3 linked regions of the Homo sapiens genome follow. The protein of the gene in region 1 interacts with the protein of each later gene in a pairwise test. Each region holds a gene or a part of one and is shown on either strand. Other genes may lie near its edges. The genes, in order: PINX1, MFAP1 and TLK1.

Evidence for each region.
Region 2: the proteins of PINX1 (region 1) and MFAP1 interact in binary tests that used the Homo sapiens proteins (3 or more experiments, as listed by UniProt).
Region 3: the proteins of PINX1 (region 1) and TLK1 interact in binary tests that used the Homo sapiens proteins (3 or more experiments, as listed by UniProt).

Annotation. Positions count from the first base shown.
Region 1 is NC_000008.11:10,836,876-10,844,756, reverse strand, and holds the start of PINX1 (PIN2/TERF1-interacting telomerase inhibitor 1), read left to right. Parts: upstream 1-4,881; 5' UTR 4,882-5,000; coding exon 5,001-5,019; intron 5,020-7,881. UniProt on the Homo sapiens protein: Microtubule-binding protein essential for faithful chromosome segregation. Mediates TRF1 and TERT accumulation in nucleolus and enhances TRF1 binding to telomeres. Inhibits telomerase activity. May inhibit cell proliferation and act as tumor suppressor.
Region 2 is NC_000015.10:43,801,882-43,809,951, forward strand, and holds the end of MFAP1 (microfibrillar-associated protein 1), read right to left. Parts: intron 8,034-8,070; coding exon 7,874-8,033; intron 3,585-7,873; coding exon 3,495-3,584; intron 3,396-3,494; coding exon 3,213-3,395; 3' UTR 2,611-3,212; downstream 1-2,610. UniProt on the Homo sapiens protein: Involved in pre-mRNA splicing as a component of the spliceosome.
Region 3 is NC_000002.12:171,043,720-171,056,126, forward strand, and holds part of TLK1 (serine/threonine-protein kinase tousled-like 1), read right to left. Parts: intron 11,454-12,407; coding exon 11,364-11,453; intron 10,135-11,363; coding exon 10,042-10,134; intron 6,456-10,041; coding exon 6,345-6,455; intron 6,232-6,344; coding exon 6,095-6,231; intron 2,644-6,094; coding exon 2,455-2,643; intron 1-2,454. UniProt on the Homo sapiens protein: Rapidly and transiently inhibited by phosphorylation following the generation of DNA double-stranded breaks during S-phase. This is cell cycle checkpoint and ATM-pathway dependent and appears to regulate processes involved in chromatin assembly.

The sequences.
Region 1 (7,881 bases):
ATTTTTCTGCATCATGTCATTTCAGGTTTATCTGTCATCACTAAAGAAAAAAAAAAAACATTGATTCTGTAACTGCCTGATGGGTTTCTCTCGCAGGCTAACCAGATAGACCTGGTTTATCAAGACAGGGGAATTGCAATAGAAGGTTTAATACACATAGAGCTAGCTAAATGGGAGACTGGAGTTTTATTATTACTCAAATAAGCTGTCCCGAAAATTCAGAAACTGAAATTTTTATACAGTAGTTTGGCAGGCAGGAGGCTAGGGAATGGGGATTGCTGATTGGTTGGGTTGGAGACGAAATCATAGGTAGTCGAAGCTCTCCTCTTGCATGAGCCACTTCTTGGGTAGGGGCCACAAGACCAGACGAGCCACTTTACTGGCCTGGGTGGCTCCAGCGGATCCATCAGAATGCAGAATGTTATGGTCTATTATAAAACACCAATCTTAGGTTTTATAATAGTAATGTTATCTATAGGAGCAAATAGGTAGGTTAGCAGTCTTGTGGCCTCTGGCTGTATTATACCTGAGCCATGGTGGGGCTGTTTCAGGGAGGGGCTGTTATCATCCTTGTTTTAAAATTAAACTATTAACTAAATTCCTCCCAAAGTTAGTTCAGCCTACACCCAGGAATGAACAAGGGCAGCTTGGAGGTTAAAGGCAAGATGGAGTTGGTTAGGTCAGGTCTCTTTCATTGTCATAATTTTCTCACTGTTATAATTTTAGCAAAGGTGGTTTCAATTCAAAGGCAAAATTTGGTTTCTTGGCTTAAAACCTTTACAGTTCTAATTTGCCAGTTACAGACAGAATGATTCTACTTTTTAAATACTTGACTTTTGTAAGTACTCACAGCTAGTATACAAATTGTAGGTTATTTGAAATAGTCAGAGTATTAGCAATTTCTGCTTCCGGCCATGATGGAGTAAAGAAACTGGATTTACCCTTCCACCTTCACTACAAAGCTGGGAAAAATAGACAAAACAATGGTTTTGAGACATTGAGCAACAGGCAGTGAAAGACTGCAATCCTAACAATTTGGTAATAAAGGAGGTGAGCCCTTTGATAGCCCTCATTTCTGGCCTGAAGAGTTTCCAGGTTGCAGCATAGGGAGACGGAACTCAGACAGAACCTGGAGGTCTCACTGAGCTAAGGTGACAACAATCAAGGAAGCTAGGATTCTTGGGGCCGAGTGTCAGAGAGAAGAGAATTATACCAAGGGAAACTCCAGATATTTGCAGAAGCGTCCCCTCAAGTCTTCAAATGAAGATTGAGCAACACTTGCACTGGAGGAAACTACTGGGAAAGAACCACCAGAGACAAGAAGGCAGAAAAATCCCCAGAGCTCACACAGGGCCAAAAGCAACTTGCGTTTCCCCAGTGGAAATAATTTCTAAACACATGGAGCATCAAGCAGAGTCCTTGACAGGCTGCTGCTTTAACAATGGGACCAGATTATAACTAAACTTAAAGACTATTGTGGGCCCATCTAGCAAAACTTACACAAAAGGCTTGCAAAGGCCACATTTTCCCCAAAGGACTTAACTATCCCAGAACAAAATATTTGAAGGAATACAAAAGCCTTCAGCCCCCAATAAAGTAACACTCACAATGTCGGATGTAAAATAAAAAGGTTACCAGGTGTGAAAGATGCAGGAAAATATGACTCACATCAAGAAGAAAAATGTACCAAAAAAAAAAAAAAAAAGCATTAGGAAGATCAAACAACAACCCATAACCTTACCAACTAGATATGGTTTTCAGTGAAGAATTAGAGTATTACCTTTTAGACTTTAATTTAATATGTATTTTTTAATTACTGATATTAAATGAACTATGAATGATCAACTTGGTGTCCTAGAGATTTTTTCCCCTTTACGTATCTTGAGCACTTTCTCATGTGTATTTCACTTTTCTGCTTGTAAGAATCAACATTCACTTGGCTTACCTTATGTAATGGGAGGTATATTAGAAGTATGAAAAGGAAATAAGACTCTCAGCTAAATGAACCAAGGTAGGAAAAAAGACAAATAATCGGACCTCACAGGGAGTGAAGGACCAAGAGTGCAGCCAGGCTCTGCAAGCAAGTTCGCTGGGGCCCCAGGGCCTCTCCAGAGCCTCAGGAGAAGCTGTTAGTGAATGAGTGTTCCCTCTGATGCTCTGCCTTAGGGAGATCTAGCCCTTATTATCTCAGTCTTCCTTCTCTTCATACATCTTTTGGCTTCTTTTGTTGTACAGAATGGCTTCTGGCCTGGATCATTCAAATCCGTCCTACATGCCTGATTAGTGTTGCCTAGTCTAGAATTTCATATAAATGGAATCATATAGCATGTACTTCTTCCACTGAGCATCATGTTTTTGAAATTAATTCAGGGGCCAGCGAAATTTTTCTTAAAGGATCAGACAGTAAATATATTAGGTTTTGGGGGCCACACAGTCTCTCCCAACTGCTTAGTTCTGCTGGTGTGGCCAGAAAGCAGCCAAACAATAGATACATTAATGAGTGTTTATCTATTGTTTAGCTGCTTTCTGGCCACACTAGCAGAACTACGTACTTGGGAGAGCCAACTACCTGTGTAGAAAAAAAAAAAAAGAGAAACTACTTTACCCTTGAGTCCATTCATACCTTTGCTCATGTCATGGACTGTTATGCAAAGAAAGGTCTGTGGATCATTGGTATCCACATTTTTAGACCCTGTTATAAATGCAGAATCTGGCTCATGCCTGTAATCCTGAAACTTTGGGAGCTGAGGTGGGAGGATCACTTTAGCCCAGGAATTTGAGACCAGCCTGGGAAACATAGGGATATCCTGTCTCTACAAAAAATAAAAATAAAAAAATTTAGCTGGATGTTGTGGCACATGCCCGTAGTCATAGCTACCTAGGACACTCAGGTGGGAGGACTGCTTAAGTCAGAGAGGCAGAGGCTGCAGTAAGCCATGGTCACACTATTATGCTCCAGCACGGACAACATAGTGAGGCCCTGTCTCAAAAAAAAAAAAAAAAGGCAGAATCTCAGACTCACCCTAGGCCTGCTGAACCAGATGTGCATTTTAACATGATCTCTGGGTGACTGGCGTGCACAGTCATGTCTGTGAAGTATTGCCCAAGGGAGTCTGCTGAGACACTGAAGGACAAGATGGAATGGGTTACATTGGATCACCTTCTTTTAACAAGTGCAATTTCCACTCCAGCTGGCCAGTTAAAATACAAACAAGATTCTGTAATTTTTTTTAAATCCCAAACTTAATAATATTCTTTTTCAGTAGATGATCTCCATTAATATTTCATAGCCATATAGAATGCTGGGGTTGAAACAAAATAGGAAACCATCCTGCATTCACCAAAAGGCAGAGTCCCTTCTACAATATTCCTCTGTGGCCTCTAACTGAGCGTTTCCAGGAGACACCTCATTGTAACAGAAGATCCAACGATAACTAACCATTTACCACCTGAACCATGGCAACAGGCCATAAATGTCTGCTTCGATCTTCTTGACCATCTTAGAGACAAAATTACCTTTCTGAAATCATATACCAACACAGGAGGTGCTTGAAAAACTCTGATTTCCGACTAATTCAGTATTCTCCATTCTATATAACTACCTTCCACTCTCTCTGGCATAATCCAATAGATCTGCTAATTATCCTAAGATTTTTGTGATCCTGCCTTCCTGAGTCCAGTGCCCTACTTTTAACCTTGTTCCCTATGTCACAATGTCACAGCTTTCCTGCCTTGGCTGGGAAAATTCCATTCACTTGCCTCCCCTCACCCCCTCAGTATTCACTGATAGCTATAAGCATCCTTTTGTGTTTCTTCTAACTTTTATGAAACTAGGGTTTACCTTTTTCATCCAGATTCCTAGTTAAAGGGAGAATTTCATTGTAAACAAGAATCTAGTCCTTCAATTGCTTTTCTTGGCACCTGAGTGGTGCTCTTTTTACCTTCCTTTTATGTAGGAAAGGCTTCTGTGTGCACTGTCACCTGAAGTTTACTGGAGAGTCACTCACCCAAAAACATGTCTTTACCATACTTAAAAGTGTTATAGCTAAGAGCTTATTAGAACTCCCCTGGAGACAGGGATACTTGAATTAAATTTTGCAAACATCTATGGAGCCTTACCATACTCACATTATTTTGCGAGGTGCTGGTACGAATACAGAAATGGATATAATAAAGGCAACCTTCCAGTGTGTGCACTGTGGTGGAGAAAATAAATAAAACCTTTGCCTTGTTGAAGGCATCCCATTATTTAAAGAGGTAACATTTTCCCCACAACTATTTTGTGTGGGGTCCCACAAAAAAACCGATAGATAGCAGACCTATCTTCTGATATCTATCTACTATCTATCTATCATCTATCTATCTATCTATTTATCTATCATCCATTTGTTTATCTATCTCAGAAAGCAGAGGTAGGGTACGAGGAAGAGATGGGACATTACAATGCAAAGTCCTCCCCTCCAGCCAAGTTTTTCAAACTCCTTGTCCATACAACATCCATGACCCTAAGTTCAGCTCTTTACACATTTCTTTTCCCCGTGAGGCTGAGCTGCTTGAGGGCAGGTCACGTCTTTCCACTACCCTTCTTGCCGGCACCTAGGGCTTCCTGATGGAGACCCTACAGGTAATCCACGTGAGCTTATGCTCCGCGGCAGACACGCCCAGGCGGGCTTTACTCACATCAATAGCTTAGTACGCACACTCCCTCTAGCCAATGAGCGAATACGTACTCCTTTCTCCACCTCCCGCAGGGCGGCCACCGCCCCCTCAGTCCCTCTTTCTCCCGTCACCTCCCCAGGTTGCCCCGCCCTGCTCCGCCCCCTCGCCGCCGCGTGCTCGAGGAGCGAGTCGCGCGCTACTGACGTCACCAGCACGCGCCCCGTCCGCTGCAGTCCGCCGGCGAGGGAGTTACGCACGTCCTGATTCTCCTGGAGTCTCCAGCCCGCCCAGTGGCCGCAGTCACCCAGGTCCAGAGGCGGCGGTATCACAGGCTCTCCGACATGTCTATGCTGGCTGAACGTGAGTGTCGGAAGCGGAGGCCCGACCCAGGCGCGTTGGTGAAGATGCCGGGTGACGCGCACGGCAGCCCGGAGTGGCTGGGAGCTCGGGTTGCCGGCGCGCCTGGCGCATGGGATCGGGGGACCGGGGAGCCGAGCCCGGCTCTGATTGTCCTGCTCGCCGCAGAGCTCCCCGAAAGTTGGCCGCAGGTCTGCTAGTGAGAGAGACCGCAAGTGTCTCCCGGAGACGCCGTTCTCAGAATCACCCTGGGTCGCGTGCGAAGTGGGTCAGAACACCGGGTCCCGGGACTGGCCCCGCCGCCGCCCTTTGTGGGGTCCCGGACTGGTTGCTTCACCCACCCCGGACCTCAGCTTCCTGAGGTTAAAAAGAGAAGGTTGAGCAGAAGGATCACTTGAAACTGTAATCACATTGTCCAAGATGTCTTGGACCCAGAAAAAGAAAAAGCAAAGGAGTTAGAAGTCTCAAATATGGGACGTCAGCCACTTAGCGAGGGAGTGCAGGGCTAATGTGTAATTCTAAGTGAGACTGGCGTTTTTGACCTTGTTAGTTGGCCACAGCGCCCCGTCCTGCCTGTTTACCTTTGACATTTATCTTCACTTGGTGGAGTCGGTGAAACCCCTGTCTCTGTAGAGGCTGCTGAACTTCTGAATTGTACCTGTAGCGAAGGTCGCTTGCCGCCAGATGGCAGTCATGCTTTGATCCTGAAAAGCGGGTCCTGCTTGGCGAGTTGTACAGTGAGCAAAGAACAGAAACAGCTTATTTAACAGATCAAGCAGACCAGCACAGGGATTTTGTGAAATAAGTGCTGTTAGCACTCTCTTTTCTAAGAGGGTGGAGGACTTAGGAGCACAAAACGAAATGGGTCAGGCACCATCCCGATTTTACAGGGGCAGAAATTGACGTTCAAAGGAAAATAATTTGCCCCTAGTCATTGAGGTAGAAAATGGCAAAATTGATCCAGTTATCTCTGTATCTTTATGTTCTTGCCAGTAAGACCAGCGGAGACCCATAGAAATGAGTATGTTTTAGACTGAACCCGTCGGTTCTATTTTTTCACCAGTAAAAAATGAGGAGTCAGGGTTAGAGCCTAGATAGCTAAGATCTCTTCTGGTTTTCGTATTCTTTGATGTTTGCTTAATTCAGCATGCACTTGGCGACTTTGGCCCTAGTTCTGCTATTCATTTATGTCTGTTCCTTTGATCAGTGTTTGTGAGGCCACAAAATCTTCTCTTAATATTTTTATCCCTAGGTGGCCTTAAATCAGTGAGATGGTGAACATGAACATAGTTTGAAAAGTCTGAAGTATAGAGGTGTAAAATGCTATTTGTAGGCATCAGTAATTCAGATTACATGATTTCAAGAGAGTGTTTTCAGTTCTCCTCTTCCCAACGTTATTCCAAATTGTCAAATCCTTGTCATTATAATATGTAATATTTTTGTGTTTTCTTTTTCGTAATTTGCTAAATGGGTATAGCATCTTCTGTAATTAGATACTTAGGATTGGTGTTGTTAAGAAGAAAAACCTTAGACAAATTATACAGAGTTTGATTGAGCAAAGAATGATTCAAGAATTGGGCAGCCTTCAGAACTAGAACCGGTTCTAAGAACTCCAACCTGCTATGTGGTCAGGCAGTATTTATGGACAGTAAACGGAAGTGAGGTACAGCGACAACTTGGTTAGGGTTACCGCTCTGATTTGCCTTATTTGAATCAGATGGCTGCCTGTGATTGAAGCCTAGCTGCTGTAATGGATTGAGGCTCACTTATATGTTATAAGAGTATACTCCTACGGTAGGCTTTCGCTTCCTTTAAGTTCTAACGTAGGTTGCAGTTCCTTATGTAAGGACTCAAGTACGGAGGCCTCCTCAGGCCAAATTTAATTTAGTGTAACAATACTCTCCTTCTGATCAACCTCTGAATTTTGAGAGATTGTTTAAAACTTCTGCCTCTGGCTCTTGGGACTCAACACGCCCTTTAGAGTAAATGGGATCCTAGCATAAGTCATGTGGTATTGAGCTGTTGTGTGGATGGTTTTTATTGGATTTGCCCCAAAAGTATCCCGACAGACCCATTTACAGTTAGATCTCCACATAGGAGTACCTGCTAGAGGATGGTTAAATACTTCCCAAATAGTGATTCTGCAGATTCAGGGCATTCTACCTGAGGCCCAGCGCCATGCTGTAAACACTGCTGTTCCAGATCGTGTCAAGGGTCCCCAAGATCATCCCCAGATTCAATGATGTGCTGGGGGATTCAGGCACAGGACTCAGCATATAGTCGCACTCACTGCTAAGATTTATTACAGCAAAAGGATGTAGAGCAAAGCCGGCAAAAGGAAAAGATGCACGGGGCAAAGTCCAGGCTAAGCCAGGCGTCAAGCTTCCAGAGCCCTCCCCCAGGGAGTCACACATAACACGCTTAATTCCTCCAGTAGTGAGTTCTGAGAGCAAATATGGAATGTTGCCCACCAGGGAAGCTAGTGAGAGACTCGGTGCTAGGGATTTCCTGGGGCCTGGTCACATAGACACCCTCTACCTGGGAGGCACCAAAATTCCTGGCTCGCAGAAGGAAAGCAGGTGCTCAGCATAAACTGTATCATTTGCATAAACAGGCACAATGAGCCACTCTTACCAGTTCTGCGAATGGTGGGAACCCTTGAGTTCCCTGTTATGAACAGGCCTTTCAAAGGATAGCAGTCAGGCCTTCTGTGTTAGTGAACAAAGCTGAGATCTGAGCACAGAACAGACTGTGGCATGAGAATTACAAAGGACATGTAAAAGGTGATCCAATTGGAACAGCTCAGAGGCAGTCTTTTCCTTACCATGATTTTCCACACCTGGAAACTTGGGTGCCATTAGAGCT
Region 2 (8,070 bases), on another chromosome or scaffold:
ATCTTGGGTCAAGTAGAGTGTATACTATATCCTATGTTGTGGAGAATTTATATGTTGGAGACTAACTGAATTTAAGTGACCCATTAAAATCTAGCACACCTGTATGAAAAATCAGTGTAGAAGAATACCTCATGTGCAGATGCTAGGTGGCAGGCCAGTCTCATTCATCTGACTAGCTCTCAACAGTATTCAAGGTACATCTGGAGTCTCAGCAGAGTTACTGTACTCAAATGGCATGTGTCTCCAAGACAGCTTATGAATATCTAAAAGGCCAGCTACCTGCCTAGGAGCCACTATATATATAGATAGATGTAGGTTATGAACCCAGTTCATAGGCCACCTTGAGTTAGAATTTTGGTACCTACAACATGCTTGATTTTGAGTGATTAAAAAAAAATAATTTGGCTGGGTGCTGTGGCTCACACCTCTAATCCCAGCACTTTGGGAGGTCGAGGCAGGTAGATCACGAGGTCAGGAATTCAAGACCAGCCTGGCCAACATGTGAAACCCCGTCTCCACTGAAAATAGAAAAATTAGCTGGGCATGGTGGTGGGCGCCTATAATCCCAGCTATTCTGGAGGCTGAGGCAGGAATCGCTTGAAATTGGAAAGCAGAGGTTGCAGTGAGCTGAGATCACACTACTGTACTACTGTACTCCAGCCTGGGGGAAAGAGTGAAACTCCATCTCAAAAAAAAAAAAAAAAAAAAAAGCCCGGGCACAGTGGCTCACACCTGTAATCCCAGCACTTTGGGAGGCTGAGGCAGTCGGATCATGAGGTCAGGAGTTGAAGACAAGCCTGGCCAACATGGTGAAACCCTGTCTCTACTAAAAATACAAAAAAAATAAAATTAGCCAGGCGTGGTGGTGCATGCCTGTAGTCCCAGCTACTCAGGAGGCTGAAGCAGAAGAATTGCTTGAACCAGGGAGGCGGAAGTTGCAGTGAGCTGAGATTGTGCCACTGTACTCCAGCCTGGGTGACAGAGCGAGACTGTCTCAAAAACAAAACAACAAAAAAGAATTTAGGGGCCAGGCATGGTGGCTCATGCCTGTAATCCCAACACCTTGGGAAGCTGAGGCAAGACGATCACTTGAGCCCAGCAGTTTGAGACCAGCTTGGGCAACACAGTGAGATTTCGTCTCTACCGCGCTCCCCCCACCACCAAAAAAAGAATTTAGGTACCTGAGGGTTAGAACATGGTAAGACTAGAAGATATCAAAGGTTGGGCCAGGTGTGGTGACTCATGCCTGTAACCCCAGCACTTTGGGGAGGCTGGGCTGGGAGGACTGTGTCAGGTCAGGATTTCCAGACCAGCCTGGGCAACATAGCATGACCTTGTCTCTACTAAAATTAAAAAAAAAAAAAGCCAGGCATGGTGGCATGTGCCTGTCTGTGGTCCCAGATACTCTGGAGGCTGAGATGGATTTGCTTGAGCCTGGGAGGTTGAGGCTGCAGTGAGCTGAGATTGTGCTACTGCACTCCAGCCTGGGCGACAGAGCAAGACTGTCTCAAAACGAAAAAAACCTATGAAAGGTTTTGATTGGTATTCAAATTCTAAGCCATAATACATTCTACATGCCATTTCCTATCCTAGAGAGAAGGTAATTTTACTTTAAAGGTTAATCAGGGCCGGGCGTGGTGGCGCATGCCTATAATCCCAGCACTCTGGGAGGCCGAGGCAGGTGGATCACCTGGGATCAGGAGTTTGAGACGAGCCTGGCCAAAATGGTGAAACCCCATCTCTACTAAAAGTACAAAAAAAAATTAGCTGGGTGTGGTGGTGGACGCCTGTAATTCCAGCTACTAGGGAGGCTGAGGCAGGAGAATCTCTTGAACCCAGGAGGTTGCAGTGAGCAGAGATCGCGCCACTGCACTCCAGACTGGGCAACAAGAGTGAAACTCCATCTCAAAAAAAAAAAAAAAAAAAATCAGCTTGGACCAACTCACACATGTTGAACTAGTTTCCTCAACTATAAAACTGTGACGGCCCCAGCTAGGCACAGTGGCTCAACGCCTGTAATCTCAGCACTTTGGGAGGCTGAGGCGGGCGGATCGCGAAGTGAAGATCAAGACCATCCTGGCTAACATGGTGAAACCCCGTCTCTACTAAAAATACAAAAATTAGCCAGGCATGGTGGCAGGCGCCTGTAGTCCCAGCTACTCGGGAGGCTGAGGCACTCTAGCCTGGGCAACAGAGCCGTCTCTTTAAAACAAACAAACAAACAAAAAAAAAACCCTGCAACGGCCCCTGAGTCTGCTGTAAGGACACTCAAATGGCAATTACAGACATTTCTCCAAGAGTTTCAAGGCCTTACCCTCATTCTGACTCTAGGATAATTCTTAGATTGTATCCCACACAACAGTGACTTGTACCTGTGTTCATCTTTATGTATTTACCACCTCATAGTAATTATTTGCATTCATTTTTATCGTACGACACTAAACTATTTGATTCTTCCAGTGGGACATTTAAAGGATGTGAGAAGACCTTGGTCTTCTCAAAAACATCTGTATTTGGTCATGGAATAAATCCAGATGCTACCTAAAGCCAAGCTAGTACCTGAGCTTGTTTCTGAGATCAAAGGGAATTATCAAAATGTGAAACACCTTCTGCCTGACAATTGTTATCTTTTACTTTAATAGGCAATTAATACTTGTCAGCTTGGACATTTTATTTCCAGTATCATGCTAAAAATCTCCTTGTTGTGTGATTCTTTTATTTCTTGACATGCACACATATATGGATCAAAAAGTATGTACAACTAGAAAAACGGACTCCAAGCAAAAATGGAAAACATGTTTCCATGAGCTTAGATTTCCGGGTATATTACTCCTAAACCTAAGGTAGAAGTAATGCATTGTTCACTTACATGTCCACTTTTCTAACCCAAGCTAAGGGCTGGAAAAAGAAAGTCAGAACAGTCCCAAGTAAATATGGGAAACCATAGCAGTGATAAAACCTAAGATTTCTCAGAAATAGTTTTAAGTGGGAAGCCTCTAATCCTACCTGGACAGTGCTTTCCTGTGGGTTTCTCAGCATGAGTCCAAACCTCACAAAGCACCTTCAAAGTCTGGGCTACCCAGTATCACAAGTATAGCAGTAAGTCCAATATCTGGATACAGGGGCCAAGGAAACAATGAAAAAACCAAATCAAGGACCAGATGCTGAGACTCCCCTTGTGTTCCACAGTTGGAAGAATAAGCAGTTGGACCCTAGGTAGTTTTCCGCTTCTTGGCAGATGGCCGCTCAAATACATCTCGTACCCCAGCTGCCTTTTGTTTGAAGAACTTTGTGTTCTGGGCACTCTCTTGGCCCCAAGCTGAGTCAAAGGAGGTGGTATCTTGATCCACAAGGTGAGTGTATTTGGTGCGACCTGAGCGTCCAAAGTTCTTGACCTGAGGGAAGGATGGATGATGAGTTATACCACCAAACAAACCATGCCTCAGCTATCAATACATCACTTTTCTCTGTCATGTTATTAAGGTTCCCCATACCTGCATGACTTTAGGAAGAATGGTTTTATTGAAATGATCCTCCAGGGTAGGAGCGCTGAAATCTCTCTTGTATACTTCTTCATCCTCATCCTGTATAAAAAAAATCTTATCAATCTTGTGGCTTTATTTCCTATATATTCAAACCACAAATTTATTAAACTCTACAATAAGGGATACAGAGAAAGCAGAGGGTATTGAGCCTTTCTTCAAGAGCTTACATCTAGTTGAAGAGATGACATTCTTTTTTTTTTTTCTGAGACGGACTCTCGCTCTGTTGCCCAGGCTGGAGTGCACTGCCGCGATCTTGGCTCACTGCAACCTCCGTCTCCCAGGTTCAAGCAGTTCTCCTGCCTCAGCCTCCCGAGTAGCTGAGGCTACAGGTGCATGCCACCACACTCGGCTAATTTTTTGTATTTTTAATAGAGACGGAGTTTCACCGTGTTAGCCCAGATGGTCTCGATATCCCGACCTTGCGATCTGCCCACCTTGGCCTCCCAAAGTGCTGGGATTACAGGTGTGAACCACTGCGCCCGGCCGAGATGATATTCTTTTTCCTTTGTTGTATTTCTCCTTTTTTTTTTTTTTTTTCCCTGAGACAGCGTCTCATTCTGATGTCCTGATGTCCAGGCTGGAGTGCAGTGGGGTCACTACTGCTCACTGAAGCCTTGACCTCCCAGGATCAAACGATGCTCTCACCTCAGCCTCCTGAGTGGCTGGGACTACAGGTGCATGCAACTATGCCTAATTTTCTCCTTGAGTGTAGACGTGTCTTGAAGGTTGGCTTATTCTCTGCACTCAATGTGTTTGTTTACTCATGTGACTTCAACTCTGCATAGGCCTCTCAAATCTGCAATCCTGGATTTTTTACTGGCTTTCATATATCATAAGTTGGATATTTTATTGGGACTTGAAATGCACGTCTAAAGTGAAAACCATTTATTAATACCTAACCTTTCCATATCAACCTCTTCTCTTTAACTTTTCTGTTAGTAGGACCAGCGTACTCTTCGATTACCTAGATTCAAAACTGAGTAACCTCTGTGTGCATTCAATCAGTTGCCACATCTTACAAACTCTTACCACCTGGGTTATTAGTTTTCCTCTACTATCAGTCTCACATACTGTCATGGCACTGATGTTTCTAGACTGTAACTCATTATAATCTTTGCCTTGCTCAAAAACTTCAATGGTTGTCTATTAAATGAATACAACACCTAGGCTGGGCGCAGTGGCTCACGCCCGTAATCCCAGCACTTTGGGAGGCCAAGGCGGGCGGATCACGAGGTCACGAGTTCAAGACCCACCTGACCAACATGGTGAAACTCTGTCTCTACTAAAAATACAAAAAACACTAGGCCTGGTGGCGCGCACCTGTAATCTCAGCTACACAGGAGGCCAAGGCAGGAGAATCACTTGAACTCAGGAGGTGGAGGTTGCAGTGAGCTGAGATCGCACCACTGCACTCCAGCCTGGGTGACAGAGCGAGATTCCATCTCAAAAATAAATAAATAAATAAATAAATGAATACAACTCCTCTGTGTAGTAATCAAGGCCAAATATTATACAGCCTTAATCCACCTTTTCAGTTCTCTTTGCCGCTTCCCTTCACAGCTGATGCTTTCTGCCTCCACTCCTGCTGGTCTCCACCTGGAATGTCTTCCCAGCACCGAATGTCAAAAAGTCTATACATCTTGGCCGGGCATAGTAGCTCACGCCTGTAATCCCAGCACTTTGGGATACTGAGGTGGGCACATCGCCTAAGGTCAGGAGTTCAAGACCAGCCTGGCCAACATGGAGAAACCCCGTCTCTACTAAAAATACAAAAACTAGTTGGGCGTGGTGGTACACGCCTGTATTCCCAGCTACTTGGGGGACTGGGGCAGGAGAATTGCTTGAACCCGGGAGGCGGAGGTTGCAGTGAGCCAAGATCGCACCACTGCACTCAAGCCTAGGTGACAAAAAAAAAAATTATATATTTAATTTTTTTTTTTTTGATACAGTCTCACTCTGTCGCCCAGGCTAGAGTGCAGTGGCGTGATCTCGGCTCACTGCAAGTTCCGCCTCCCAGGTTCACGCCATTCTCCTGCCTCAGCCTCCCAAGTAGCTGTGACTACAGGCGCCCGCCACCACGCCTAGCTAATTTTTTGTATTTTTAGTAGAGATGGGTTTTCACCATGTTAGCCAGGATGGTCTCAATCTCCTGACCTCATGATCCGCCTGCCTTGGCCTCCCAAAGTGCTGGGATTACAGGCGTGAGCCACCGCGCCCGGCCCAAAATTATACATCTTAAATGCTTAAATGTTACAACCTTTACGTCAACCCTTTCAATCTTCTACCAAATATAACATCTCTCTCGTCAGAACCCCTACAGTACTTTACTTTTACTTATGTTATAGTGATTATGTATTCTCGCTAACAGTGCTAAACAGTGACCTTTGCATAGTATATGCACTAAAGCTTACTTACTCAATGAAATAAACAACATTAGTAAGGCTGGATGCAGTTGCTCTTGCCTGTAATCCCAGCACTTTGGGAGGCCAAGGTGGAAGGAGAGTTTGAGCCCAGGAGTTTGAGACCAGCCTGGGCTACATAGCAAAACCCATCTCTACAAAATAGAAATTAGGTGTGGTGGCACACACCTGTAGTCCCAATTACTCAGGAGGCTGAGGCAGGAGGACTGCTTGAGCCCAGGAGAATGAGGCAGCAGTGAGCCATGACTGCACCACTGCACTCTAGCCTGAGTGATAATATTACAATGCTGTGATACATATTTATAAACACATATGCTGAAGGAATTAAAAATAGCACTATCTTGTTTAAGAAAGACTTTTTAAAAACAATTTATTTTGAGACAAAGTCTTGGTCAGCCACCCAGGCTGCAGTGCAGTGGCACGATCACGGCTGACTGCAGCCTCAACCTCTCGGGCTGAAGCAATCCTTCCACCTCAGCCCCTTGATAGGTGACACTACAGGCACGGACCACCACGCCTAATTTTTGTATTTTTTGTAGAGATGGGGTTTTGCCATGTTGCCCGGGCTGAACTCCTGGGCTCAACTGATCTGCTGGCCTTGCCTCCCAAAATGTTAAGATTACAGGCATTAGCCAATGTACCTGGCCCACCAAAGGACTTTCACATACACTTTTCTTATGTATCTTAACTAGCAATGAACTGCTTCTCTAAGAAACTTGATTATTAAAGCTGCGAACTGCTTAAGCAAACAAACTTTATGACCGAAGCAGTACAAGAAGTAGTTCATAATCTCCACTGAATAGTAAGCTACATCTGCTGGAAAACTACCTAAGTAAACACTTCCTGCTAATCAGATAGACCTGAAACTGATTTTGGAGGGTGGCAGGGAAGCCGCCACTGAAGTTTTAACAGCATCTGCAGTGAAAGGCAGGAATTTAGTTGCAGTGGGGATATTTAGAATTTGCCACACGGCACTTGAAAAAGCTAGTCTAGTTTTTGGTGCAAACTGCTTTAACATTAGGAAATAAACCATACAGGGTTAACAGATTGCTATTTTGATCTTAGTCTTTATATGAAAAACAAAGATGACGGCATTCCATCTAATGGTTAGATAATAAACCATTTTTTTTGGTTAGTTACTCTTGGGTACTGTCAGTTCAGAATGAAGTGAACTAACTTTCTGCCACCCAAAAGTGAATTAATGTAAAGCTATTTGCAGAGTTTGGTTTTCACATAACCAAAACTTCTCATTCAGCTATGAAAGAATGACAACTATGTCATGTGGAGGACCTAATTAGTCCACTATCTGTACAGATCACTTCTCTATTTCATTTCCTCAATTTATCTAAGGCTGGGGATGATGGCTCATGCCTGTATTCCTAATACTTTGGGAGGCTGAGGTGGGAGGATTGCTTGAGGCCAGAAGGTCAACACCAGCCTGGGCAACATAGTGAAACCTGGTCTTTACGAAAAATTAAAAAAAAAATAACCAAAAAAAAAAAAAAAGCCAGGCATGGTTGTTGCATGCCTGTAGTCCCAGCTACTCTGGAGGCTGAAGCAGGTGTAAAGCGCAGGACGTCAAGGTTGCAGTGAACTATAATCGCACCACCGTACCCCAGCCTGGGTGACAGCGAGACTCTGTCTCTTAAAAAAAAAAAAAAAGTCTATTACATCATTTCCTATTTTTGAGAGTTGGGGCCAAAAGAGAGAACAGTTGATGCTACTTCTGTCATCCAATTGCTGATGCTTTTCTCTGAGTTTATATTGTTCAGAAGGAAAAAGCAAATGAGAAAGCTGACCACTGGCAAGTGGAAATTACATTCCAGAATATTCTTGAAGAGAAAAATAATTCAAAGTTTCTGAGTTATTCCTACTGCCCAATTTTCTGACTCTCTTTTCACTTCTTACCATGAAGAAGGCACCCCGGTGATAATACTTCTGTAAGAACTTGTATTTGCCCTTAACAGCTTTGTTGGTAATGACTTTGCCGTTTGCCCGAAGTTCAGCTCTCCTCTCTTCCTCAGTCAGGTTTCGCATGCGTTCAATTTCTGCTTTCTCCTTCTCAAGCCTGTCCAGGGAGCAAAACAATTTATTGGTACTGTTAC
Region 3 (12,407 bases), on another chromosome or scaffold:
TAAAGCTAACACATACTTTGCTTTTTTTTTCTTTTAAAGAAATAGAGACAAGGTCTCACTATGTTGGCCAGGCTGGTCTCAAACTCCTGGACTCAAGTGATCCTCCCACCGCAGCCTTCCAAAGCACTGGGATTATAGTGTGAGACATCCCACCCAGCCCACACTTTCTTTTAATACAATCACCCACCAAGCCAGTCATTCACCTGGCTTTTGGTTTTTTCTTAAACAAATTTACTAACTTACAAAAAGTACAGTTCTTTTAAAAAATTAATATAGTCAAAATGTTTTAATTGTAACTTACAACAGCTCAAGAAAATTAAGAAAGGCTTTAAGAAGAAAGTACATTTTGAGATGGACTTTGAAAGATTAATACTATCACCATCTAATTACTAATGGATTAAGAAAAAATCAACAAAATCTGGCCGGGTGCAGTGGCTCATGCCTGTGATCCCAGCACTTTGGGAAACCAAGGCAAAGAGTACAGCTTGAGCCCAGGAGTTCAAGACAAGCCTGGACAACATGGGGAGACTCCATCTCTTCAAAACAATAAAAAATAAAAATAAATAAAATCTGTACTTAAAATGTTAAAGGTGACAACTAGAATTCTTACATGTGAGAGGATGGTAGTGCCACTCACTAAGAGAACACAGAAAAGGGGCAAAGTATGTGTGTGTAAAGACAGACTGAATCGGAAAGATAACAGTAAATACAAGGTTTTATTTGTTTTTAGTAAATATAGTTTTGAACAGGCTGCATTAGAAGTTCCTGTGAGACATTTAAGTACTGATAGCAACTAAGCAGGATGTGATATTCAAGACTGAGACAGAAGTATCCGATACTCAAGAGAAAAGTGGGCTGGAGATGGTAATTTTGATGTCAGCAGGATGTATACGGTAACCGAAACCCTAAGAGTAGATACTACTCAAGGAGAATACGCAGAGTGAGAAATGTGACGGCCTAGGACATATCCCTAAAAGTCATCTACATTTTACAGATTGGTAAGTAAATGATGCCCATAGAAAGAGACTGAGAAGATGCAGCCGGATGAGTTAAAATGGAAACTTCAGTATCTTCAAAACTAAAATAGTCTTTTTGGAAAAAAATAAGTCAACAATATTCAGTGCTGCTACGTAAGTTAAAGACCCAAATGTTACAGCATTTAGCATCAGGAAGATAATCTTAAGAAAAATTTCAGTTAAGAAAGGGCAACTGGAAGACAAGGCAGAAGAGACTACGAGGACAGGCAACTCTTTGAAGAAGCCTAGTTATGAAGAGAACATACAGAATATAGAGACTAAAGGGATTTGTAATTGAGGGAGAGTTTTTTAATGGTTTTGCTTACATGTTTTTGGAAGGGAAGTAACAAGCAGAGCACAAAGGAGGTATCAACAGAAGAGGTTCCTGATACAGGTGTGGATGGGATTCAAAGCATGGATGACAGACAATCTTTCAATAGAGGAGAAAAGAATACATGACATACAAGACATTAGAGGGTACATGTATTTTCTCTTTTTTTTTTTTTTTTTTTTGAGAAAGTCTCACTCTTGTCCCCCAGGCTAAAGTGCAATGGCACGATCTTGGCTCACTGCAACCTCCGCCTCTCAAGTTCAAGCAATTCTCCTGCCTCAGCCTCCTGCGTAGCCGGAATTACAAGTGCCTGACACCATGCCCGGCTAATTTTTGTATTTTCAGTAGAGACGGGGTTTCTCTCTGAGAATTTACTGACCTCACGTGATCCACCCACTTTGGCCTCCCAAAGTGCTGGGATTACAGGCATGAGCCACCGTGCCCGGTCTATGTATTTTCTACTCACGTGAGTTTACGTAAGTTCTTCTAGAACAGAAAATTTATGTAAGTTTGGATACATCTGTATATTGAAATTTTAACAATGGTGTTCTCTGTGAAATGGGATCATGGTCTATATTATTATTCTTGTCCTATTTTCCAAATTTTCTTTTAAAAAATGTCTTTGTCCTTTAAATTATAAAGAATAATTCATTAACAAAGAAAATCCAGAAAACAAAGAAAAGCAGAAAGGGAAAAACAATACCTATAACCCACTAATGAACTGCTTTCACAGGCTGAGAAAACATATAAATGGTAGTTACATTACTTCATTCTCTCAGACAAAGGAATGTGAATGGAAACGTTGAATTAGAATAATCCAAAACTTTTAATTGATTCCTAACTGATTCAGACACAGAAGGGTGAATTCTGGTAACCTCTTAGCTACCTAGGTCTCTGTTTTAAAAGAGAATTGTTAAATCTCTGCTTAAAACGGTAGAATTCAGATATTTGGGGCTATTAATTTAGAGCTAAATTTTCAATACTGCCTTCCTTCCTGGTCTTAATCATTTTTGCTATCTAAGTATTAATTATAAATAACATCCATTAGTAACATTCACGCTCACTGGCAACAATTTTAAAAAAGAAAAATTTTAAATGGAGGCTTACAGTTGTGGTAAATTTGGTCTAACAAAGGGATCATTCTCTGCTCCATTGACTGCTTTGTTTTTCCTTTGTTTTGGTTCAGAATTGGTAGAGGGTGCCTGAGAATTATTAGCTGTGGGAGGTTTGCGTTTGGCTAGAAGTTTCCTTTGCCTTTCAATATCTTCCCTTTGCTGATTCACCCATTCTTGTTGCCTGTGTAAAAATAAACAAATAAAACCATATTAACCTTCCATTACTTTTCAAGGCTAAACTTGGAAAAAATGCATAAAAAACATGAAAAACCATAAAATATACATTCGTAACCTTTTGGTTCCACTCTTGTGAACCAATTTGTACTTATCCTTCAGGTCTCATTTGAAAGAATTTTTTTAAGTGAGGTATTCTCTAAACCCCTAGATTAGGGAAAGATGTGTTGCCATATATAATTTCATGGGATCTTCTATCTCCCCACCTCACTCTTTCTAATAAATATTATTCCTATAGATACTTTATCAGAAAGTGTCCGGTTAGATGACATCACTCCCTAAGAACACAGATGGTGTCTATTTATACAGTATTTATACTGTTGTATCCCTAGTACCTAGTGTAGTGATCATCACTTACCTTTGCTCAGTAAATGTTTCTTGAATGAAATGAGATAAAACAATACCCCAAACTATTAAAGTATGGGGTATATGTTACACATGCATCTCACCACAGTATTTGCAAACAAATTTACAAAAGGCAAATATGAATTTAATGTGAAGAGAGTTATTTTCTAAATCTACTTTTGTTAAAAAAAATTGGTAATGGGAAGTTGGTGTTTTGAAATGAGACAAATTAACCTTAATATAAGAAATTTATGAGAAAAATTTTTTTGATAATTTAAGGGGAAAAAGACAAGAAAATAGCAAGAAAAATTAGCATGGCTCTGAAAAATGGGAAAGTAACAAAAATAAAATCAATGCTTCCCATTCAAGAAACTGAAACAATTTTGCAAATAGCTCCCTAATTCTAAAAACGAATAGATACCATGTCTATTATTAAAATGTAGATTAGATATTTTAGCAGTTTGAGCAGAGCATAAAGTAGTTAACAGTGAAGCTTTTTAAAACCAACTTATCATACAACACCTTAAGCTTATTCTAACAGTAACCATGTTCTCTTTCAGGTCACCTCACTATGCCAATAAAAAATTTTCAAATCCTACATGGTTACAATACTTAGAGCAAGTCAAATATTTCATGCCCTCCTCTCCCCAACCACTGACATCAACTAAAGGGCTCCTACTTTGCTAATGCAGAATTGACCTTACACACATCCCCTTCCCTATGGTTTTAGTGATAAAGTAGCAGAATATGATAGGAGTGAAAAAAATCAAGAAGAATCTAGGTAGAAGATTGAAAGGGTAGAGAAAAATCTCAAGAATAGCAAAGTGAGAACAAGACTTTAATCCGGTTTTCATTTAGAAGCAGGAATAAATTTCAATTTTTAATAAGTAAATCTTAAGGCTATTTTAGGGCACAATCAAGATGGTATAAATGCAAATAAGCAATAATAATCCTAATGATTAAAATATTAATGGAAAGTAAAGAATTACTGGAATAGATATTAATAGCTGATTACTCAGGGATGACTATACAGTTTAGAGATTAATATTATTACTTTTATTTATTTCTCTTCTCATCTTCTAACCACTCTGGATTATATCACCAATTATAAACGGCTTGATATACACACAGTAGGTCCTCAATAAATGCTTATTAGTGAAAGTCAGGACATACAAGTAATTATTTTCTTTTTTGACATTATTTTTTGAGACAGACTCTCACTCTGTCGCCCAGGCTGGAGTGCAGTGGCATGATCTCGGCTCACTGCAGCCTCCACCTCCCAGGTTCAAGCAATTCTCGTGCCTCAGCCTCCCGAGTAGCTGGGATTACAGGCGCCCACCACCATGCCTGGCTAATTTTTGTATTTTCAGTAGAGACAGGGTTTCACCCTGCTGGCCAGGTTGGTATCAAACTCTCAACCTCAGGTGATCCTCCCAACTCGGCCTCCCAAAGTGCTGGGATTACAGGCGTGAGCCACTGCACCTGTGGCCTCTTTTCTGACAGTTAAGAGGAGAAATTGGAACTACTAGTAGAATTTATATTTCAGAACATTCATATTAATTATATAACTGTCTCTTTTATTCATTGCAGGACAATTGCCGGTCTGGGTTTAGTAGCAGAGCCTCTTGCTCATAAACACTAAAAAATTATCTTCTCCTGCTTTCCACTTTACTGTTGATATGTTAGTTCATGCTTTAATCACCTTTCATCTGGATACCCCTCCATCTTAACTACCAATAACATTCATCCTCTAATAATATTTTCACATTACCATCAGTTATTATTCTACAACTATCACTGTAGATATCATTCCGATCACGTACACTATATGTAAACCTTTAACAAGTCCCATTATCTGCAGAATTGAAACCCAAACTCTCTAATATCACAAGGACATTATCCTTTGTTTCACTGTGGTATAACTAGCACAGATATGTTGAAGAAAAGTTGAATAAATCTGCTGAGAGAGAAGGCCATTCTGTGGCAAGTCCTAGGAGGCAGTGTTTGAACAGCAATGTTGGTGTGATACCATGTGAAAGTAAGTTCTGCCTCTATTTCAAATAACTGGATACTCTGGAAAAGCTGATGTTCATGCTGGCATTACTCCCCATTTTCAGGTTTAAAAAAATTTTCCACCAAAAACGGAGTAGCATATTTAGCACTCCTTAACACATAAACAGCCAATAAATCCTTTTCTACCACCATCTGAACTCAAGAAAATATGGTAACTATAATTCCTCTGTTTAAAAGTTTGATCTGAAAAGTAACAGAAAACCAAACACCGCATGTTCTCATGTATAAGTGGGAGCTAAACATTGGAGACACATGGACATAAAGATGAGAATGATAGAAACTGGGGGCTACAAAGATGAAGGAGGCAGAGACAGGGGCAAGGATTGAAAAACTACTGGGTACTATGCTCACTACCTGAGTGGTGGGTTCAATTGTACCCCGAACCTCAGTATCAAGCAATATACCCCTGTAACAACCTGCATATATATTCCCTGAAACTAAAATAAAAGTTGAAATTAAAATAAATAAATAATAAATAGAGTTTACCTCAGAAACGCTAAAGCCACATGTTCAGTTTAACTGATAAATCAGTTATTATATCTGAGGCAAAAGAGAAGTTTTTTCCCTTAGGAATAGAGAGCAGGCAAGTGCTGAACATTAACATGTAAGGATTGGGGAATGGGAAAAAACTAAGTAGGAAAATCCTAGGAAATAAACACACACACAAATCTTCCAGTGAAAATTAAATTTTCAACAATTTCCCTCTCAAAACATCATCTGTAAAGCTAAAGGTTCAATTAATATCTCGGAAAGTCAGAATTAGAATAATATATTACATTCTATAGATGACTGCTAATTAATCAAGAAATTACTAAGCTAAAACTGTAATACTCTTGGTTTCATATCCCTTTCAAAGGTACTAAATTCTATGATTTCAGAGTAGCGAGGAACTGGAGAGCATAATTACAAATCTATAATCTTTTAAAGTAATGAAAACCCAAACGAATACTAAAAACTTTTAAATGTTAAGAATGACTAACTTCACAAGATTCTGAAATGCAAAACCATCTGTCCATTGTTCAGTAAATGAAGCGCCATGTCTAACTGTTGTAAAGTGCCCGAGGCGTAATCGATCTTGCATACTCTTCTCTCTGCTTGACAGCTTTTCTTGTGTACTCTGAAAAGGAGAAAAAAAATCATCACTCAATTGTATTCATTAATTTATAAAAGCATACAAAGCAAAAGGGGCTAATGAAGGGAAAGCGAAAATTTACTCAACTTTTAGCCTACCTTTTCAATAAGAAGTTTCTTGCTCATTGATATGCACTTATTTAATCGTTCTTTGTATTTTTCAAGTAATTTTTGTTGTTCATCTATTTGCCGTCTGAGATCACAGTTAGCCTATGACATAAGTAGAAAATGCAAGAGGTCTAGACTGGGGAATATGAAAAGCTTAGAAATAGTTTTAATGTTCTAAATAAATTATATACAGATAGGACTAATAATATTAAATATCTGAGTATGATACGAGAAAAAAAAAAAGCCTACTTAACCATGAGATAATACTGTTAAATGTTACTTAAGTGTGTAGTGGAAAGTACATACAGGGAAATTTGTATCCATATCCATACATTCAAATCCATACTCTAAGGTTAACTTTGGCTAAGTTATAAGAACTTTAGTTCAGCTTTCTTATTTCTAAATAGAAGCAACACAATCTACCTCACTTTGTTAAAAATAACTAAAATATGGTATATAAAGTGTCTATCACTTAAAAATAAATGTGAGTTTTCCTCTATCTCTTATAATTAACAAATTAAATGTGGGTTTTCCTCTATCTCTTATAACTAACAAAATATTTTCTCCACTGAACTTATAAATGACATACACAAGTTGCCTACCCAACAACTGTCCTCACCATTCTTCCTTAGCAATAGGATACTAATTCTGTTCACTTTGTAGGTGGCCATATGCTCAGAGAAGAGGCTTCCTTCTAACATCAAAAGATGAGTCTGATTAGTACAGTGGCAAGAGAATAACCTATAGGGCTTGTTACAACAGATTACTGGGAACCATTCCCAGAGCTTCTGAATCAGGTCTCAGGAAGGACCTGAAAATTTCCGTTTCTAATAAGTTCTCCAGTAATACTGATGCTCCTGGTCTGAAGATCACACTTTGAGAATCAAAAGTCTAGGCCAACCATGGTGGAATCCACAAGACAAGGGCACAAAATCTTAAAAGTGCTGAGAGAAAAGAATTGCCAACCTAAAATTAGATACCCAACACAGTTGTTTTTCAAGGAAGAGGAAACAGAATTTAGCACCAATAGACCCTCAGCAATTCAAACAAAATCTCAACACTGTGTGTGTATGATGCATATGCAACTTGAAACCTGATTCTAAAATTTCTCTAAGACTGTGAAGGGCCAAAAATAGCCAAAAAGAAGAAGAGGATATCTGTTTAACCATGTATCATGACTTAACATAAAGCTACATAACTATGATCACCCAAGCCTCCTCCTTCCTTAATAATGGAAATTCAATGTTTTATCCTGGATTGCTATCTGCCTAGCCAAATGACTACAGTTCCCAGCTTCCCTTAGAGCGAAGGATGGTTAATGAGATGCAAGCAGAAGTTGTTCAATGAGATATCCAAGAAGGCTGCACACAGAATTGTGCTTTGTGTTCTCTGCTCCCATCCTCCCTCCTGTTATCTGCTTAGAACACAGATATAATTGTGACCCTAATAGATATATTGAACCTTGATGTGACCTTTGAGATATAAGCCATGAACTAACAATGACAAGGTCCCTTATGATACTGAGGAGTAATAATATCTGAGCTGCCCACTTCTGTTCTTCTCTTGAAAAATAAGCTTCTATCTCATCTGAAGTACTGTTATTTATGTTCACTGTTACTAACAGCCAAAAACAACTGATAAAAATTGTTTTATCAACAATGATAAAAAGATGCTGCAGTACTTGTGTAGAGACACAAACAGAACAAGGAAACATGATACAGAACACAGAAACAGATCCACCTGTATACTGGAAACAAGATTTTATGATGATAGAGCTGGCAGTATAAGAATGAGCTTTTAATTAAATGGGGATGAACAACTGGTTATCCATATAGAAAGAAATTGAAATGAAACCCTACATCATGCCATACCCAAAACCAATTTCAGTAAGACTAATAATTTATATTGAAAGATCAGCTGGGCATGGTGGCTCATGCCTATAGCCCCAGCACTTTGGGAGACCAAGGTGGGAGGATCACTTGAGGCCAGGAGTTCAATACCAGCCTGTAGACTCCCAGCTCTACAAAATAAAAAAAAATCAGCCCGGAGTGATGGCATGAGCCTGTAGTCCTAGCTACTTGGGAGCCTGAGGTAGAAATATTGCTTAAACCCGGGAGTTTGAGGCTACAGTGAGCTATGATCCCCCACTGTGCTCTAGCCTGGGCGACACAGTGAGACCCTGTCACTTAGCGGGGGAAAAAAAAGACCAGACCAAAAAACCTTGAGAAATAACTGGTATTATACAGTAAAATGGAAAATGCGTATGCCCTGTACTCTGGCTATGTCTTTCCTAAACATATACCACAGAAAAATTCTTTCATATGTGCCCTGAAGACATGTACAAAGAATGTTCTTAGAACTGTTTATACTAGAAAAAGTAGAAATAAAATGTCAACTAAAAGCAGAAAAGATACAGAAATTATGGTATACTTGTAACACCTTACAATATTGCAATGAAATGAACAAACTACAGTTATACTCATCAAAGTGGATGACTCTCTGATATATTTCATTGAAAACAAGCTGGGCAAAAGGGTCCATACTGGAAAATTTCACTTAACGTTCAAAAACCAACTGAAATAATATGTTGTGAAGAATGTAAGCACATATTTAATACAACCATAAAGAAACACCAAGGCATCACAAATACAAAATTTAAAATAGTGGTTAAATGGTAAATGGGTGTGAGAAAGTAAATATGACAGGATCAGGAAAAAGACACACTGGATGTTTTAAAGACACTGTCAAATACAGTAGGATCACAGGTGTTGGTTTTATCGAGTTTCTACACCAGTAGTTCTCAATGCTGTCTTAAATTAAAGTTATCTGGGAGAGCCTTTAAAACTACCAATGTCCAAGACCTACATCATCATCAACTTGATCAGAACCCCTCAGGGTAGAGTTTCAGGCATTAGTACTTTCACCCTTCCCAACTGGTGAGTCTAAGGAGCATCAAGGGGTAAGAACTGCTGCTTTAAACCCTTACATTCTTAAGTATACTTCTAGATGTATTTTTAAATAAAGCTTCCATTAAAAATCCTACAGAACTGCAGCAGTTACTTCATCGTATAGGTATCAGATGTCAGGCATATAATAAAATCAATAAACTTTAACATGAAATGGCTATTTGTGTTATGGTAGTTGGTCATATAAATGTTATTAACTTCCAGTTCTCCAACAGTTTCTCAATTCCCAATTTATTGAAGATCTAATAAAATATTTCACTTTAAAATTGGTATTTTTCAATCATGTACTTAAACTAACAGAAAAAGCTTATTGAGTTCTAGCTACAGAATTTTTTTTTTTTCTGAGACAGAGTCTCACTCTGTCGCCAGGCTGGAGTACAGTGACGTGATCTCAGCTCACTGCAATCTCCACCTCCCGGGTTCAAGCATTTCTGCTGCCTCAGCCTCCCAAGTAGCTGGCACTACAGGCACGCACCACCATGCCCAGCCAATTTTTGTATTTTTAGTAGAAACGGGGTTTCACCATGTTGGCCAGGATGCTCTTGATCTCTCAACCTTGTGATCTGCCCGCCTCGACCTCCCAAAGTGCTGGGATTACAGGCATGAGCCACTGCGCCTGGCCTAGCTACAGATTTTTTTACAATGCTAAGTATTTTCTGAACAGTTTGACTGTTGCCAAATAATTTATTCAATTTTTTTCCCCTCTATGACTCATTACTTACCCTGAGCAAATCATCTATACGTCCCTCCTTCTTTTCCAGGTCCTGGATTTTATTACTTTCTAATGCTGCTAATTTCAGCATTGTGAGATCAGTCTAAATGAAAAAAAGTTATTTTATTATCTCCATTATATATGTTGTTTCAAGCAAACATAAAACTAGATTTTACTCCAAATTCAAAAGGTAAAGAAAAATATATTTGTGTGTATATGTAAAGTGAATCTCAAAAAGTTTTAGTGCAGTTTTAATAACTTCAAGTGTATAAATGCTACAGACTTACCAAGAAACATCTAGAAAGGCCAATTACTTAGAATACTGATGTTCCTCATTATAATTCAATATATCCGCTGCTTTGTGCTATACGTTCCTCTAGTTGATTTTTTTGAATTTTGCAAGACCTTTTTTAAATTGATAAGTAAAAACCTATCTATTTATGGTACACAACACGATGTTTTGATATATGTATATACAATGTGGAATGGCTAAATCAAGTTATTTAACACATATCTTTTTTTTGTGGTGTGAATAAAATCTACTCTCTTAGCAATTTTCATATACACAAAATATTGTTTTTAACTGTAGCCCCTATGATGTATAATAGTTCCCTTGAACTTACTTTCCAACTAAAATTTTATGTCCTTTGACCAACATCTCATGCAGCAAAACCTTTCATGATCTACTCAGTGGCTGAAAGGAATGTACTTCTAATCCTAGCCTCAGGATCATCCAAAGAAAGAGGTTTTGATACATGCACAACAGTTTGGATATGACCTCACAAATACAGTCTAATAGAAATAAACTGTCAAGCTGAGCTTGAAGAGTAAGATCTACTCTCCCAAACCCCAGTCTGAGAAAGTGCCACTCAGAAACTGTCACATGTAAAAAATTAAAATGAAAAACTTAGTGCTCAAATTCATGAAACTAAATAAGTATAGAAAATATACAAATAATTCAAATAATGTTTATAATTTGTCACATATACGTATTTAATAAATACAGTCAAATGAGAGGCTTTAATGTCCACTTCTAAAAAATACAGCAGTTTCACAAAATATCAATTACATATACTTGGAAATTAAGTTCAGAAAGAATCAGTAAACAGAACTGACATGTTAACGGTTGTTTAAAAAGCTGATAGTAAATTGTGTGTTTCAGTTTCTCACTCCTTCCTACAAATTCTGTTGTTTTTGTTTAGTAAGTTATCTTTCTTGATGTGTAATTCTGCTTTATGACTACATATAAAACAAACAGACATCTTAGTTGTTAGTAAGTTAGTCAATGGTTTCTTAGAAGCCATAGAAAAAAACATTTTAATTATCATTTACCTGAATAATTTTAAAGGATAATTGCTTTGGTTGTACAATAGGGTGGTCCCCAAATGCTAATGCAGTAGGAGAAGGGCTATTCGGTCGAACCTAAAGAAATTATTAAAATTTTTATATTAGCAAAAAAAAAAAAAAAAAACACAAAACAAAACAGATTTCTAATTAGCAACAATTACTTAACATTTCTGAAGAAGTTTCTATCAGAATAATACCTAAATTGAAACATAATTGACTTTTAAAACCTTTAATCACCATTTATTCAACAAGTGTTCATTAAGTACCTCCTACATAAGACCCAGTGAGAAATACAACAATATATTCCCTGCCCTCATAGAGCTTACATTCTAGTGCCATAAAAGAAATCTTAATGCTTTCATACAGTTAAAAAAAAAATAAGGCCAAATAAATTATTCTGAAAAATATTAAACAATGATTATGATAGTTGAAAAAACAAACTTACTAGGGACAATAATACACGCCCATATGTAGTTTAATATCAATTTATCAATGAATTTCATAGTTTATCTGGTCACTAGTTCAAAAAGACACTCACTGAAAGCAGATTATAACATTGTATCAGCGCTATCACTACAACTCTTAGTTACTGTTGAATCTTATGCCTTACTTTTATACACGGCAATGTGATATCCTGAAAGGTACAAAATGAGTAAAACAAAACCAAGTATGTCTAAAGACAAAGGACAAGAAGGGGACACAAGACATAAAAACAAGATGTTTGAATAAATAAGTGAAACTCTGATTTTTAAAAATCTTTAATTCCTCTTTAAATTACTGAAAACCAATATTGTTTTTCTAGTTAGATATTGAACTTTCACACAATGAAAGTAAATTTAAAAATGAAATCCAATATGCAAAACAATGCATATAAAAGAACTATATCTAAAATGTTATGAAAAAACCAAAAAGTTTAAGATAATTTTAAGTCCATGATTCTTTTCCTATACTGAACTACATACCCTGCCTTTTTCTTAAGGATTCCCAGAAAGGAATTATGCTATCATTTTAGTGGTTAAGAAATTCAAT